Linked DNA regions of Homo sapiens. The protein of the gene in region 4 purifies or fractionates together with the protein of the main gene of each other region. This does not show direct contact. Each region holds a gene or a part of one and is shown on either strand. Other genes may lie near its edges.

Region 1 (3,500 bases), 1.7 Mb from region 4:
CGGGTAGGCAATTTTTTTTTTTTTCCCCAACGGGACACAAGAAATCAGATAAAGACCGGGCGCGGTGGCTTACACCTGTAATCCCAGCACTTTGAGAGGCCGAGGTGAATGGATCATCTGAGGTTGGGAGTTCGAGACCACCCTGACCAACATGGAGAAACCTTGTGTCTACTAAAAAAATAAAAAATTAGCCACGCATGGTGGCGGGCACCTGTAATCCCAGCTACTCGGGAGGCTGAGGCAGGAGAATCCCTTGAACCCGGGAGGCGGAGGTTACAGTGAGCCGAGATCGAGCCATTGCACTCCAGCCTGGGCAACAAGAGCGAAACTCCGTCTTAAAAAATAAATATATGTATATATATATCAGATAAAAATCAAGGAAAATACATATAAATTGGACTACAGTAAAATTGTGACTGTCTCTTCATCAGAAGATGCCATTGGCTGGGCACAGTGGCTTGTGCCTGTAATTCCAGCTACTTAAAAGGCTGAGGCAGGGGAGGCTCCCTTGAGCTTAGGAGTTTTAGGTAGCAGTGAGTGAGCTGTGATCATGCCACTGTATTCCAGCCTATGTGACAAAGCGAGACTGTTGAAAAGTGCCATTTACAGTCAAAAGGCAGGGTACAGATTAGAAGATATTTACAGTGTTTATATGACAATACATAAATAACTTGTACAAATTGGTAAGAAAAAGACAATCAGACACTGGAGCAGGTACTTCGCAAAAGATGATCAAATAGTGGCTGGGCGCAGTGGCTGACACCCATAATCCCGGCACTTTGGGAGGCTGAGGTGAGCGGATCACCTGAGGTCAGGAGTTCAAGATCAGCTTGGCCAACATGGTGAAACATGGTCTCTACTAAAAATACAAAAAATTAGCTGGGGGTATTGGTGCATGCCTGTGATCCCAGCTATCTGGGAGTCTGAGGCAGGAGAATCACCTGTACCCGGGAGGCGGAAGTTGCAGTGAGCTGAGATCGTGCCATTGCACTCCAGCCTGGGCAACAGAGTGAGACTCTGTCTCCAAAAAAAAAAAAGGAAAAAAGATAATCAAGTAGCCACTAAACATGAAAAAATGCTTAACCTCATTAGTTATTGTGAATATTCAAACCATAATTAAATATTTGTACAAATCCAGTAGAATAGTTAAAACTATTAAGACTGACAACACCAATTGTTGGTGAGGATGTGGAGCAACAGAAACTCTCATACACTGCTGGTGGGAATGTAAGTTTATATAACTGGAAAACTATATGGCAGTATTTATTAAATCTCAACATATTCATACTCTTTATTCAGCAATTTCACTTTCAGGTATATTCCCAGTAGTAATATATATGCATACCAAAAGACATTTCTAAGAATCTTTATAACTGCACTATTTGTAAAAGCCAAAACCTAATGTTAACCTAAATGTCTATCAACAGTAGAATGGATAAATAAATTCTGGTATATTTGCTTAATGGAATACTATGCAGCAGTGAGAGTAAATGACCTAGTACTATACTCAGCAACATAGGTGAATCTCACAAAGAGCATAGGAAGCCAGATACAAAAGAGTAATTCTACGTGATTTATAAATAGAATTTATATTTGTAAATTATAAAGTTCAGAGACTGGCAAAACTCATCAGTGGTGATATGAATTAGGATAATGGCAGCATTTTTGTTGTGGGGAGTGATTGGAAGGAAGCCCAAAGGGGACTTCTGGAGGTTTGGTGTTGTTTCTTGGTTTGGGTGGTTATAAATGTGTGTTCACTTTGTGAAAACTTAGTGAACTGTGCATACATGATTTAAGCATTTTTCTGTATTAATGTTGTATTTCAATGAAAAGTTTACCTGAAAATGAAGCCAGCATGTGACAGTCTCCCTTTTCCTTCACTCAAAAGAAGTGACTGAGTATATTTTAGGTAATCACAATAATTATTAGGAAATTTGAAATCTTAAGTGCTGTAAAATATTGTTTTATTTAAAAAAAATTTCTTTAGAGACAGGGTCTCGCTGTGTCACCCAAGCTGGAGTGCACTGGTGTGATAATAGCTCACTGCAGCTTCCAACTCCTGGGCTCAAGCAGTCCTCCTACCTTGGCCTCTCAAATTGCTGGGAATATAGGTGTGAGCCACCATGCCCAGCCTTAAAAAGATATTAGCAAGCAAGATCAAATGCGGTAAGCGGAGGAAATATTTGTATGAGTGAATTTTGGTATTTTACCTGAGAGTAAAAAAAAAAAATTTAATTCTAAATAAAACTTAGCCACAGTTATTATTCTGTATTATAAAAGTAGCTCTAACTTTGTGAATTTTACTAATATAAAATTTAAGCTCTGAGCTGTATTAAATTTTTTCAATGAAAACTTGTATTTTAAAGAATATGTCATAAATATTCTTTGACCTCACAGGCCAACTGTGCAGGAAGATGGAGGGGATGTAATCTACAAAGGCTTTGAAGATGGCATTGTACAGCTGAAACTCCAGGGTTCTTGTACCAGCTGCCCTAGTTCAATCATTACTCTGAAAAATGGAATTCAGAACATGCTGCAGTTTTATATTCCGGAGGTAGAAGGCGTAGAACAGGTATGCCAATATTATATGACAGTCTAGATTTTTTTCATTTTTTCTTTTTCTTTGTAGATACAAAGGCTGGAAATAGATGTTAAGGCAAGTATTTGAAAAGAAGTTCATGACCTAGCTTTTTCTTCAAGGGCTGGATTTTTGTGTTGCAATTTTTATCAGACTTGAAGTCTCTTATTTTAGAAGTAACTTTGGGCTGGGCGCAGTGGCTCAAACCTATAATCCCAGCACTTTGGGAGGCTGAGGTGGGTGGATCACCTGAGGTTGGGAGTTCCAGACCAGCCTGACCAACATGGAGAAAACCCCGTCTCTACTAAAAATACAAAATTAGCTGGGCATGGTGGCAGACGCCTGTAATCCCAGCTACTTGGGAGGCTGAGGCAGGAGAATTGCTTGAACCTGGGAGGCGGAGGTTGCGGTGAGCCGAGATCGCGCCATTGCACTCCAGCCTGGGCAACAAAAGCGAAACTCCGTCAAAAAAAAAAAAAAATGAAGTAACTTTAGTGTTATGAGAACCTACTATGTGCCAGGCATTTTTGCTCATTTCATCTTCTAATGACACAGTGCATTAAGTCATTCCCATTTTGCACATAAGGCTACAGAGACTCAGAGGGCATATTGCTGCCCTGATTGCACAAAAATTATGAAAAAGGTTTAAAATGTAACACAGTGTTTTATAGATGAGATTTAGAAATCTTTAGTGGAAGAACTCTACTACATCATATTTACCAATTTTTTTTTTTTTTTTTTTGTAGAGACGGGGTCTTGCTATGTTGCCCAAGTTGGTCTTGAATTCCTGGCCTCAGGTGATCCTCCCAAAATGCTGGGATTAAGGATTAACACAACTGGCCTAATCTATGTATTCTTAAATATGCAAGCAAGAAGCCCATTAAGAAATCATAGTTTGTTGTTATACTGAGTAGAATTCTAG
Region 2 (3,500 bases), on a different chromosome or scaffold from region 4:
ATATCTATGTCTTCTTTATTCCAGGAGAATTCTGCTTCTCCAGGATATCACAGGTGGTAAAATTAGAATATCACATCGTTATTCATTTACTTCATTCCACATCTCTCTCTCATACACACACACCAGCCCTCAGAATAACAAGACTAATGTTTTCATCACTTTTTTTTTTCTTTTGAGACGGAGTCTCGCTCTGTCGCCAGGCTGGAGTGCAGTGGTGCGATCTCAGCTCACTGCAATCTCCGCCTCCCGGGTTCAACCTAGTCTCCTGCCTCAGCCTCCCAAATAGCTGGGATTACAGGCTGCATCACCACACCAAGCTAATTTTTTTTTTTTTATGTATTTTTAGTAGAGACGAGGTTTCACCATGTTGGCCAGGATGGTCTCAGTCTCCTGACCTTGTGATCCGCCTACCTCAGCCTCCCAAAGTGCTGGGATTACTCATCACTTTTATGATTACTGAAAACAGCTAAATATTTTGCATATGTTCTCCCCCACTGTCCATTCATTTTTTAAAACAGATGCATTGTATTTATACTGACATGTCTTACAGACGTTACACATGAAATATTTTCTCCCCTAGAGCCCTCATTTGAATTTAAATCTAAAAATAAATACATGTTTAGTGCTCACTGCCAGTCCTTATATCAGTGTTTCTCTGTTTTGTTTTTTTTGGGGCGGGGAGTGGTTTTTGGTCATTTGAAATTCATTTTCCAGGAGATCTCTCAGGAAGGACTGAAAAGTCACTGAATTCTTGTTAAGTTGTTAAGTTTCTGTGCAGTCTTTGTATCTGGAAGTCAGTTTGGCTGGATATAAAAATCCTTGGTTGACATTTCCTTAGATCATTGAGTATCTTAAGCTATTTTTTCCTTTGGCACAAAAAATTCTGTTGAAAAGTCTGATGATATTCTTATTTTCTTTTCCTTATAAATGACTTTACCTTTTTTGCTTGGATGCTCAAAGGACTTTCCTGTCTTTAAAATCCAGCAATTTTACTAAAGTATGTCTCAGTATTGGTCATTCTGTGACACTTTTCTCAGGTACAATGTATGAATTTATCTATCTATCTATTTATATCTATCTATCTATCTGAGACAGTCTATCGATCGATCGATCTATCTATCTGAGACAGTCTATCTATCTATCTATCTATCTATCTATCTATCTATCTATCTATCTAATCTAGCTATCTATCTATCTGAGACAGAGTCTCACTTTGCCACCCAGGCTGGAGTGCAGCGGCATAATGTCAGCTCACTGCAACCTCCACTTCCCAGGTTCAAGCGATTCTCTTGTTTCAGCCTCTTGAGTAGCTGGGATTACAGGTGCCTGCCACCATGCCCGGCTAATTTTTTGTATTTTCAGTAGAGACGGCGTTTCTCCATGTTGGCCAGGCTGGTCTCGAACTCCTGACCTCAGGTGATCTGCCCACCTCAGCCTCCCAAAGTCATGGGATTACAGGTGTGAGCCACTGTGCCTGGCCCAGTGTATGCCCTTTTAATATGCTGTTTCTAATCTTTATTGTAGGACATACTCGTTTTTAAGACCACATAGCACATCATAAACACAAACTGATTTCAAGCTGATACTTTGGCATTTATGGAAACTACACTTTTTCCTTCCCATGCTTTCCATATCCAAACCATAAGCATTTGCCAGGAATGAAAACAAACAGGGTCTTCCATGAAAACTGGTATCCCAAAATATTTTTAAATGCGGGGTATTCTATCATTTAAAAACAACCTTATTTGTTTGTTGGCTCACACTTATAGTCCTAGTACTTTGGAAGGCCAAGGTGGGAGGATCACTTGAAGTCAAGAGTTCAAGACCAGCCTGGGAAACATAGTGAGACACTGTCTCTACCAAATAAAAATTAGCCAGGCATGATGGTACATGCCTGTATTCCTAGCTACTCAGGAGGCTGAGGCCAGAGGATCCCCTGAACACAGGATTCAAGGTTACAGTGAGCCATGATTGCACCACTGTACTCCAGCCTGGGCAACAGGATGAAACCCTGTCTCAAAAAAACAAACAGGGCTGGGCGTGGTGGCTCACACCTGTAATCCCAGCACATTGGGAGGCCACAGCAAGAGGATCTTTTTTTTTTTTTTTTTTTTTTTGGACCGAGTCTGTCGCCCAGGCTGGAGTGCAGTGGTGCAATCTCAGCTTACTGCAACCTCAGCCTCCCAGGTTCAAGCAATTCTCCTGTCTCAGCCTCCCGAGTAGCCGGGATTACAGGCGTGTGCCACCATGCCCAGCTAATTTTTGTATTTTTAGTAGAGGCAGGGTTTTACCATGTTGGACAGGCTGGTCTTGAACTCCTGACCTCAAGTGATCAACCCGCCTCGGCCTCTCAAAATGCTGTGATTACAGGCGTGAGCCACCATGCCTGGCTGGGAAGATCTCTTGAGGCCAGGAGTTTAGTAACTGCCTGGGCAACAAAGCAAGACTCCATCTATACAAAAAATAGAAAAAATTAGCCAGGTGTGGTGGCAAGTGCCTGTAGTCCTAACTACTCGGGAGGCTGAGGCAGGAGGGTCACTTGAGCCCAGGGGTTTGAGTCTGCAGTGAGCTATGATTGCGTCACAGCATTCCACCCTGGGTGACAAGAGTGAGACTCTGTTTCTAAAACAAACAATCCTTTTTTAAGGTCAAAATATGTGTGTTGGGTAACCTATTCGTATTTATTTCTAAAAACACTATAATATATGTCTTTACTAGCTATGCATTTTCATCTTTTTTGGGAACCTGATATGTAAAATGGCAGTATCTCATTGCTGTTTAACACTTTTTTTTTTTTGAGACGGAGTTTCACTCTTGTCACCCAGGCTGGAATGCAATGGCGCGATCTCGGCTCACTGCAACCTCTGCCTCCCACGCCTCCCAGGTTCAAGCAATTATCCTGCCTCAGCCTCCCCAGTAGCTGGGATTACAGGCACCTGCCACCATGTCTGGCTAATTTTTGTATTTTTTGTAGAGACAGGGTTTCATCATGTTGGCCAGGCTGGTGTCGAACTCCTGACCTCAGATGATCCAAGGACTTGGCCTCCCAAAGTGCTGGGATTACAGGCGTGAGCCACTGCACCCGGCCTATTTAACACTTTTTGAATAGTGTATTAAAAGTTTTCCGTGATTGTTAGATGTTAGGATTTGTTCTTCTGTGAATGTCATCCTCCTAACCTTTGAACATTTTTCAATATCTCTTGAGTTCTACTGACTTCGTTCATGCTCTCTTGGCCATATAGAAGTGTCTGCTCTTTCACTGTCTCCGCATTGTCCTTCTTGGTTAAGGTGGTCTCCCTTAGACTATACAAAGTCTCCTATTTTCTTGAGGAATGTTCACTGTGATCATTTAAAAATTTCAGTTGTTTCATCCTTTGGAAAAATGTTTGCATATGATGCACGTTTTCCTTTCTTCCAGCTGGATATTCAGTTATGTCCAGTACCATTTCTTTAAAAATCCATTTTTTCCCTCTGAGTTTAAATATATTAAATTATCTTTT
Region 3 (3,500 bases), on a different chromosome or scaffold from region 4:
CCAACACCATTTATTAAAGAGACTGTCTTTTTCTTATTGTATGGTTATAGCAACCTTGTTGAAGATCATTTGAGCATATACATGATGGTTAGTTTTTGAGTTCTCTGTTCTGTTCTATCATCTATTTGTTTTCCTGCAAATACCTCACTGTTTTTATTTATGTAGCTTTGTATTCTGTTCTAAAAACAAGAAGTGTTGTGCCTCTAGCTTTGTTCTTATTTTCTAAGATTGGGCCATGATGGTCCTTGAAATTCTATGTAAATGTAAGAATTTTTAAAAATATTTTTCCAAAAAGTAGGCTGGGCGCAGTGGCTCATGTCTGTAATCCCAGCACTTTGGGAGGCGGAAGTGGGCTGATCATGAGGTCAGGAGATTGAGACCATCCTGGCTAACACAGTGATGTAACAGGGTTTTGAAACCCAAAACATCCATGTTATTGCAACAATATTCACTGTATTAGTTTATCCTCGTATTGCTATAAATACCTGACACTGGATATCTTATTTTTAAATAGAGATTTAATTCGCTCATGGATCTGCAGGCTGTACAGAAGGCATAGCAGCTTCTGTTTCTCAGGAGGCCCCAAAAAGCTTCCAATCATGGCAGGAAGCCAAGCAAGAGTGAGTCATCTCACATGGTAGAAGCAGGAGCAAGTGTGTGGAAGAAGCTGCTTTTAGAAAATGAGATCTCTTTAGTTATTAAAAGAAAACTGCAGAACTCCTCATTGGTTTTCCTTTACCTAATGATTTCTGTGAAGTGAGACTTGGGTAGTAGGAAGAAGGAATTAGACACTCTACCTGCCACCCTGCATGTGTGTGCGCTCGCGCACATGCTGTCTACATGTAATCCACTCCTTTTACTTTCCTTTGAAACTGGTAAGGTTAAAATAGGGGAGAAATCCTACATGTTGCAATGATAGCTTTTTGGAAAATTTAAGAAATCAAACTCTCCAGGCTCTCCATCTTGATTTATGCTTGAATTGTTATGTGCCATATTTGCTTTGAACTCTGATTACCAGAAGTTTTACTAAAATGTTGAAGAAATAATTCACTTTCACCTGCTTTCTAGATTTTGTACATCTCAGTTCATAAAGCAAGCTTATTGTTAGCATAGTTTTCTAAATGCTGCAGATTTGCAGCCATTACCACTACAAAGAATTTTGAATGAGGGATTTTTTTTCTTTGTTAAAATAGTTCGTGTTTCTGTAGAAATTTCACTTTTAGATTGAACTGCAATGGATAAGCTATCAAAAATAAAAAGAAAGAAAATGAGATCTCAGGAGAAGTCACTCACTATGGCAAAGACAGTACCAAAGGGGATGGTACTAAACGATTCATGAGAAGCCAACCCTACGATCCCATCACCTCCCACCAGGCCCACCTCCATGAGGGCTTGTAATTTGATGTGAGATTTGACTGCAGACACAGATCCAAGCCATATTATTTACAAAAGCCAAAACATGAAAAAACTCAAACATCCTTCAACAGTTGAATAATTTAAAAGGATGTGGCTTACACATACAATGAAAAATTATTTAGACTCAAAATGAAAATATCTTGTCAGATGCTACAATATGGATAAATCTTAAAGCCATTATTTTAAGTGAAATAAAACACTAACGAAGTGACAGTGTAAGATTCCACTTATATAAGGTATTTTACTTAGTAAACTCCTACAAAACATAAGTAGAAAATTGCTTGCCTATAGTTAGGGTTGTGAAACCTCAGTGGAGTCAAAGATCAAGGGGGGTTACTTGGAAAAAGCAGGCCCTCACCAGGTGGCCAACTCAAGAGCCCATAGACATAGCTACAGACAAGGAAATTATGCACAGAGTTTGGTCTTACTGAGGATTCCAAAAATAGTTCTGTAACCTCTCTCAAATTCAATCTCAGCTATAGTCCAGAAGTGGTCCTTCCCATCAAGAGACCTGCAGGAAGACACAGCCAGCAATGGCCCTGGAGGCAGGCCTGCAGATCCTGGCCTCAGCTGTGGTCCCTGAAGCAGCCCTGCAGATCCTGGCCTCAGCTGTGGTCCCTGAAGCAGCCCTGTGACTCAGTTCTAGCCATATGTAGTCACAGTCTGTGGCCATTCGTACACATTCAGAGGCTCACAGAGAGACCTGTAAAAACTGTTCCCAGGTAGTCAGCAGAAGCCAAACCCATTCATACACCTGTTATTTGGGCCATCATATACAGACAAACTTCAAAACCCTAGCCTACAACCTGCCATATAGATTAATGTCCTCAAGGAAATCTAATCTTTTCAGGGCCCAGAAGAATCCATAACTGTCCAAATCTCTGGCAACACAACCATCAAAGACACAATGCACAGCAGACCCAGCAGCACCCTTGTGACCCAGCTACAACCCTTCTCTGCAAACCCAGAGGTAGTCTCATCAGCCTGGGGACCCAACAAAAGGAGATGTTTACCTGCCAAAAAATAGATTATACAAACTGTAAATCATTGTTAAATCCTTAAAATATACAGACACAGGGCTGCTTCAGGGACCACAGCTGAGGCCCAGATCTACAAGCATGCTTCCAGGACCACAGCTTCTATCTTAACATATTACCAAATGTACCAGAACAATTAGGCAAGGAAAAGGAGAACAAAGCTCTCCTGCTTGCAAAAGTAGTAAAAATGTTACTGTTTGTAGATAATATGATCATGCATATATATGAAACCCTAGAGTGGAATAACAAAAACTGAACTAATAAAGGCACTCATTAAGGTATCAGGATACGTAATCAACATACAAATATCTGTAGGTAGTTTCTTGGTTTGTGTTTATAAGGCAAGGTCTCACTACAAGGCCCAGGCCCATCTCGAACTCCTGTGCTCAAGTGATCCACATGCCTTGGCCTCTGAAAGTGCTGAATTACAAAAAGGAACCAATATACCTAGCCCAACATACAAATATGTTTCATTTCCATAAAGTAACAAAATTTCCAAAAAAAGAAAAAAATTCAATTTGCAATACTATAAAAATAAGAAATTAATTCAAAATAAATTTAACCAATGAAATAAAAAATTTACACACTAAATACAAGATACAAAATCTAGTGTATAACAATAAATTTAGACACTAAATGATGACAGAAACTGAAGCAGACACAAATAGATAAAACCAGATTCCATCAGGATAACAGATATTGTCAAAGTATATTTTCGAAAGTGATTTGTAGATTCAAATGTGATCCCTATCAAAATTTTAGTGGCGTTTTTCACAGTAATAGTAAACACAATTGTAAAATTTAAGTGTAACCTTAAACAATTTTAAATAACGTAAGCCATCTTGAGAAAGAACAAAGCGAGGGGCATCATACCTTCTAATTTTAAACTTTATTTAAAGGTTATAGTAAGCAAAAGAGTATGGTATGTGCATAAATACAGATATAAAAAAACCAATGGAACAGAATAGCCCAGAAACAAATCCATGCATACAAGGTCAACTAATTTTGGCAAGGGAACCAAGAACACACAATGCAGAAATTACACTC
Region 4 (4,043 bases):
TCCTCAGAGCATACTGACGTCTCCAGCTCTAATCCATTACCACATAGACCACACTAGCCTTTATCTTCTCATTCCAACAGTGAGAAACTTAGCTCCCACTATCAGCCATCCATCTACTTCGTTGTTCAATTTCGGTATGATGTGTGGTAGTTATATTTGTCTTCTAGGGCTGCTATAATAAATGATCACAAACTTAGTGGCTTAAAACAGAAATTATTCTTTTCACAGTTCTAGAAACTAGAATTCCAAAATCAAGAGGTAAAAAATATGGAAGAAAAAGAAAACAGAATAGAGCATAAGACAGATGTAGGACATGGTCAAAAGTTCTAGCAGAATATAGTTGGAGTCCCAGAAAAGGAAGAGAGAGAAAATAGAACAGAAGCAGTAATTGAAAAAATAGTTGACAAGGACACTACCAATCTGATGTAAAACATCACTCTATGGTTTCAAGAAAGTCAGCAACCCCAAGTAGGGCAAACAGAAAACTACACCAGGCCGGGCAACAGTGGCTCACGCCTGTAATCCCAGCATTGTGGGAGGCCAAGTCGGGCAGATCACTTGAGTTCAGGAGTTCGAGACCAGCCTGGCCAACATGGTGAAACCCAGTCTCTACTAAAAATACAAAAATTAGCCAGGCATGGTGGCACATGCCTATAATCCTAGCTACTCAGGAGGCTGAGGCAGGAGAATCGCTTGAACCCAGGAGGCAGAGGCTGCAGTAAGCCAAGATCATGCCATTGCACTCCAGCCTAGGTGACAGAGTGAGACTCTGTCTCAAAAAAAAAAAAAAAAAAAAGGCAGGTGCAGTGGCTCACGCCTGTAATCCCAGCACTTTGGGAGTCAGAGGCGGGCACATCACAAGGTCAAGAGATCGAGACCATCCTGGCCAACATGGTGAAACCCCTTCTCTACTAAAAATATAAAAATTAGCTGGGCATGGTGGCGTGTGCCTGTAGTCCCAGCTACTCTGGAGGCTGAGGCAGGAGAATTGCTTGAACCCTGGAGGCAGGGGTTGCAGTGAGCTGAGATCGCACTACTACACTCCAGCCTGGGTGACAGAGTGAGACTCTGTCTCAAAAGAAAGAAAACCACACCTAAGCACACCATAGTCAAACTGAAAATCAAAGATGACAAGAAAATCTTAAAAGCAATCAAAGTAAAAAAGACATATTATAGAATGACATGTAATGACACTTTTTAGTTGCTGACAGAAAAAACCTGCCAATTTAGAAATCTGATTCCGGCCAAGTTGGTGTAAAAGAGATCAGTTTATCCTCCCTGAAACAAACAAGCAACCTAGACAAAATACATGACATAATGGATTTCTGGCATTGGACATCAGGCAGCACAGGAATTGATTTCTGAGAGAGGGTAAACAAACAAGATGAGCCCTACAATTACCCAGTTTACTGGCTGTAGAGAGTTTCCAGACTGCAGTGCAGGAAGGGGGAATCCACGTGGAACTTAGTGGTCTCCCTGAGTTGCGGAGATAGGAGTTGGAAGTCTGAGGAGGCCATGGTGCTAGAGTTCACAGCTCTCTCCTGGAAAGGAGAGCTGCACAGAGAGTGAACTCTAAAGATCTGTAGTACCTTTCATGTCTTCATCGGAGCTTCGAGTATTGCACGCATGTTAGGAAGCTAGAATAGAACCCCTTGAAAGGATTAGAGGGAATAATCCACACACAGAGGTGGGGATAGTTTTTTCTTACTAGTCATAGTAATTTCCGTAACATTGGGAAGAGTACTCAGAAGGGCTTTGGCTTGGTAGTGAGGAAAATTAGTCCTAGACTAAAAGCTGCTCCAATCCCACCTAACGCAGCAGAAGAAAAGCTTAATAATATTGATATGAATTTAAAAATAAGATAAAATTGACAATGTCTGACATCAGTGAGGACCAATTTTCCTCACTAAGTGGGTCGAGCCGTTCCTGCCACGAGCTTCTAGTGCATGTTCTATTCTGAAAAAGATGAGAATTAACCAGCTACAGTGCAAGATGTCATGAAATGAGCTGTGTTCAGAATCTAGGCACGTGTGACTTTGACATATCTATGAGGTTTAAAAAAGAAATATCAGGAATACAAGTAGAATATGTGCCATATGAAGAAATCATAGCTTATTTATGTAACATTTAGTATCCTCATTAGCTGTTTGACTGGTTTTAGAATTCAGCATATAATCCTTGGCTCTTTGGAAATAAAATTGTATAAATACTAATATTTATTAGATCTGAATGGTAGGTACATGGGTGTTAAACTAGTCTCTGTGCTTTTGTGTGTTTTTTTTAATTAAACTAGTGATTTTAATTAAACTAGTGATTTATGACTGCCTAGGAATGTGGCCATTCATATCATACCTTTTCATCCATTTCTTAGGTTCCCAGTCTAAGTGGGTGACTTTCCAAGATAGAGGCAGATCATTTCTCCGTCAAGTATAGAGAGACACATCTGCTCCTCCTAGAGTGTCCATAAGTATGAAGAAAATAGAAATAACTTAGAAGAGGCTGCAAAAACATTAAAGTTTGAAATTTTTTTGGGTGGGGAATAACATTTTGATGGCAATTTAATAGTGATTTTCATGTGTGTCTTGATAATGTCAAAGGTAATAACCAGGTGTTTTGGCAGGGCAAGTTTTGGGGATCAGGGAAACACTCATATTTGCTAAGTACCTATTATGCCATAAACTGTACTGAAAGCTTTTTATCTGTTACCTCATTTTAATCTGTAGTCAATTTATGTGGTAGACCTCATTTGCCTGTTATAGATGAGGACCCAGGGTTCTCAGGAAAAAGCAATGTCTTCAATCTCACTAATAGTACTGCCAGAATAAACTATTATAAAGTATATCATACATGATTTAGATTATAAGAAGAAACATTTACTAATGGTGAAAATTCTGAGCATTGTGGTTGCTTACCTAGAAAAATTTAGTAACTTCTCTTACTTCTCTGAAAATTTTAAGCTTATTTTTTATGATGATTTAAGAATGGTCCTGCCCACAGGCAGAGGAGATAGACTGCATGAGCTCTCAAAGTTTTTTCTAAGTCTTATGATACTATAAGTTGGTATTTTTATGATCTCAAATGTGTTCAATTTATTTCCCTTTCTTAAGGTGGATAATATTAATGCAGCTGTGATGGATTTGAAAAAAAAGAAGATCCGCAGTCTAAGTGAAGAGGTCAAAATAGGAGCACATGGAAAACCAGTGATTTTTCTCCATCCTAAAGACTGTGGTGGAGTCCTTGTGGAACTGGAGCAAGCTTGATTTATATTTGCAAGCAACTAAATTAATTGACCTGAAAAAGCCTATCAAATACTATCAAAATGTACTATGACATTGAGTCCTTCACTGCTTCCATCATGTAAAAGTTCACAGTTAAAGACTGAATTACAGAAAGATTAAAATATATACATATATAAATACATAAATATGTATATTATTTAGATTAACAAACATATTTGTTAATTTGAATTTGAAGAAAATCTTGATTACTAATTACTTAGGGAACATTATTAAAATCATATAGAAATAAATTATTCCTCTTCTACAATGGGGTAATTGAATGTAATGTGTTAGCTGTGTACAAGGGTATGTGTGTGATGGATGGATACACAAAGGAGTTATGAAAGTATGACAATTTTGTGGCTAATATTTGGGGCAAAAGTTTCTAAGAATGTTTTGGAATACTTTTTTAGAGCAAGCTGTGTAAGATTAGGGAATTTTAATCTCAGAAGTTTTGCTCTTCAAAAACAACTCGTGGTCACAGTTTCCTCAGGGTCCAGGTGTTTTGGGTGCTAGGGCTAGATGTATAGGAAGTTTTGTGGAAAACCTGGTGCGTCATCTAGTAGGCATGTAGATGTCTGAATTATTTTTTTAAATCAGTAGTAATTTGTAGAGTTAGGTATCACGTAGATGCTAGAACACCACAACAGGTCCTAGGGGAATATACAAAATGAATAGAAATCCACTGCCAAGATGCTTATGGTTCATTTGGGGAGAGTACTGCTTGAAATAAATGTAAACACTTACAAAACAACATCTGAATGA

What was found. The genes of interacting proteins can lie anywhere in the genome.
Region 1: the proteins of MCEE (region 4) and NFU1 purify together in Homo sapiens (co-immunoprecipitation; one large-scale study listed by IntAct). This does not show direct contact.
Region 2: the proteins of MCEE (region 4) and FBXO21 purify together in Homo sapiens (co-immunoprecipitation; one large-scale study listed by IntAct). This does not show direct contact.
Region 3: the proteins of MCEE (region 4) and ZNF732 purify together in Homo sapiens (affinity purification with mass spectrometry; one large-scale study listed by BioGRID and IntAct). This does not show direct contact.

The regions. Positions count from the first base shown.
Region 1 is NC_000002.12:69,399,436-69,402,935, reverse strand, and holds part of NFU1 (NFU1 iron-sulfur cluster scaffold homolog, mitochondrial), read left to right. Parts: intron 1-2,397; coding exon 2,398-2,572; intron 2,573-3,500. UniProt on the Homo sapiens protein: Iron-sulfur cluster scaffold protein which can assemble [4Fe-4S] clusters and deliver them to target proteins.
Region 2 is NC_000012.12:117,180,471-117,183,970, forward strand, and holds part of FBXO21 (F-box only protein 21), read right to left. Parts: intron 1-3,500. UniProt on the Homo sapiens protein: Substrate-recognition component of the SCF (SKP1-CUL1-F-box protein)-type E3 ubiquitin ligase complex.
Region 3 is NC_000004.12:288,475-291,974, forward strand, and holds part of ZNF732 (zinc finger protein 732), read right to left. Parts: intron 1-3,500. UniProt on the Homo sapiens protein: May be involved in transcriptional regulation.
Region 4 is NC_000002.12:71,109,187-71,113,229, reverse strand, and holds the end of MCEE (methylmalonyl-CoA epimerase, mitochondrial precursor), read left to right. Parts: intron 1-2,371; coding exon of another isoform or gene 2,372-2,392; exon of another isoform or gene 2,393-2,467; intron 2,468-3,107; coding exon 3,108-3,260; 3' UTR 3,261-3,543; downstream 3,544-4,043. UniProt on the Homo sapiens protein: Methylmalonyl-CoA epimerase involved in propionyl-CoA metabolism.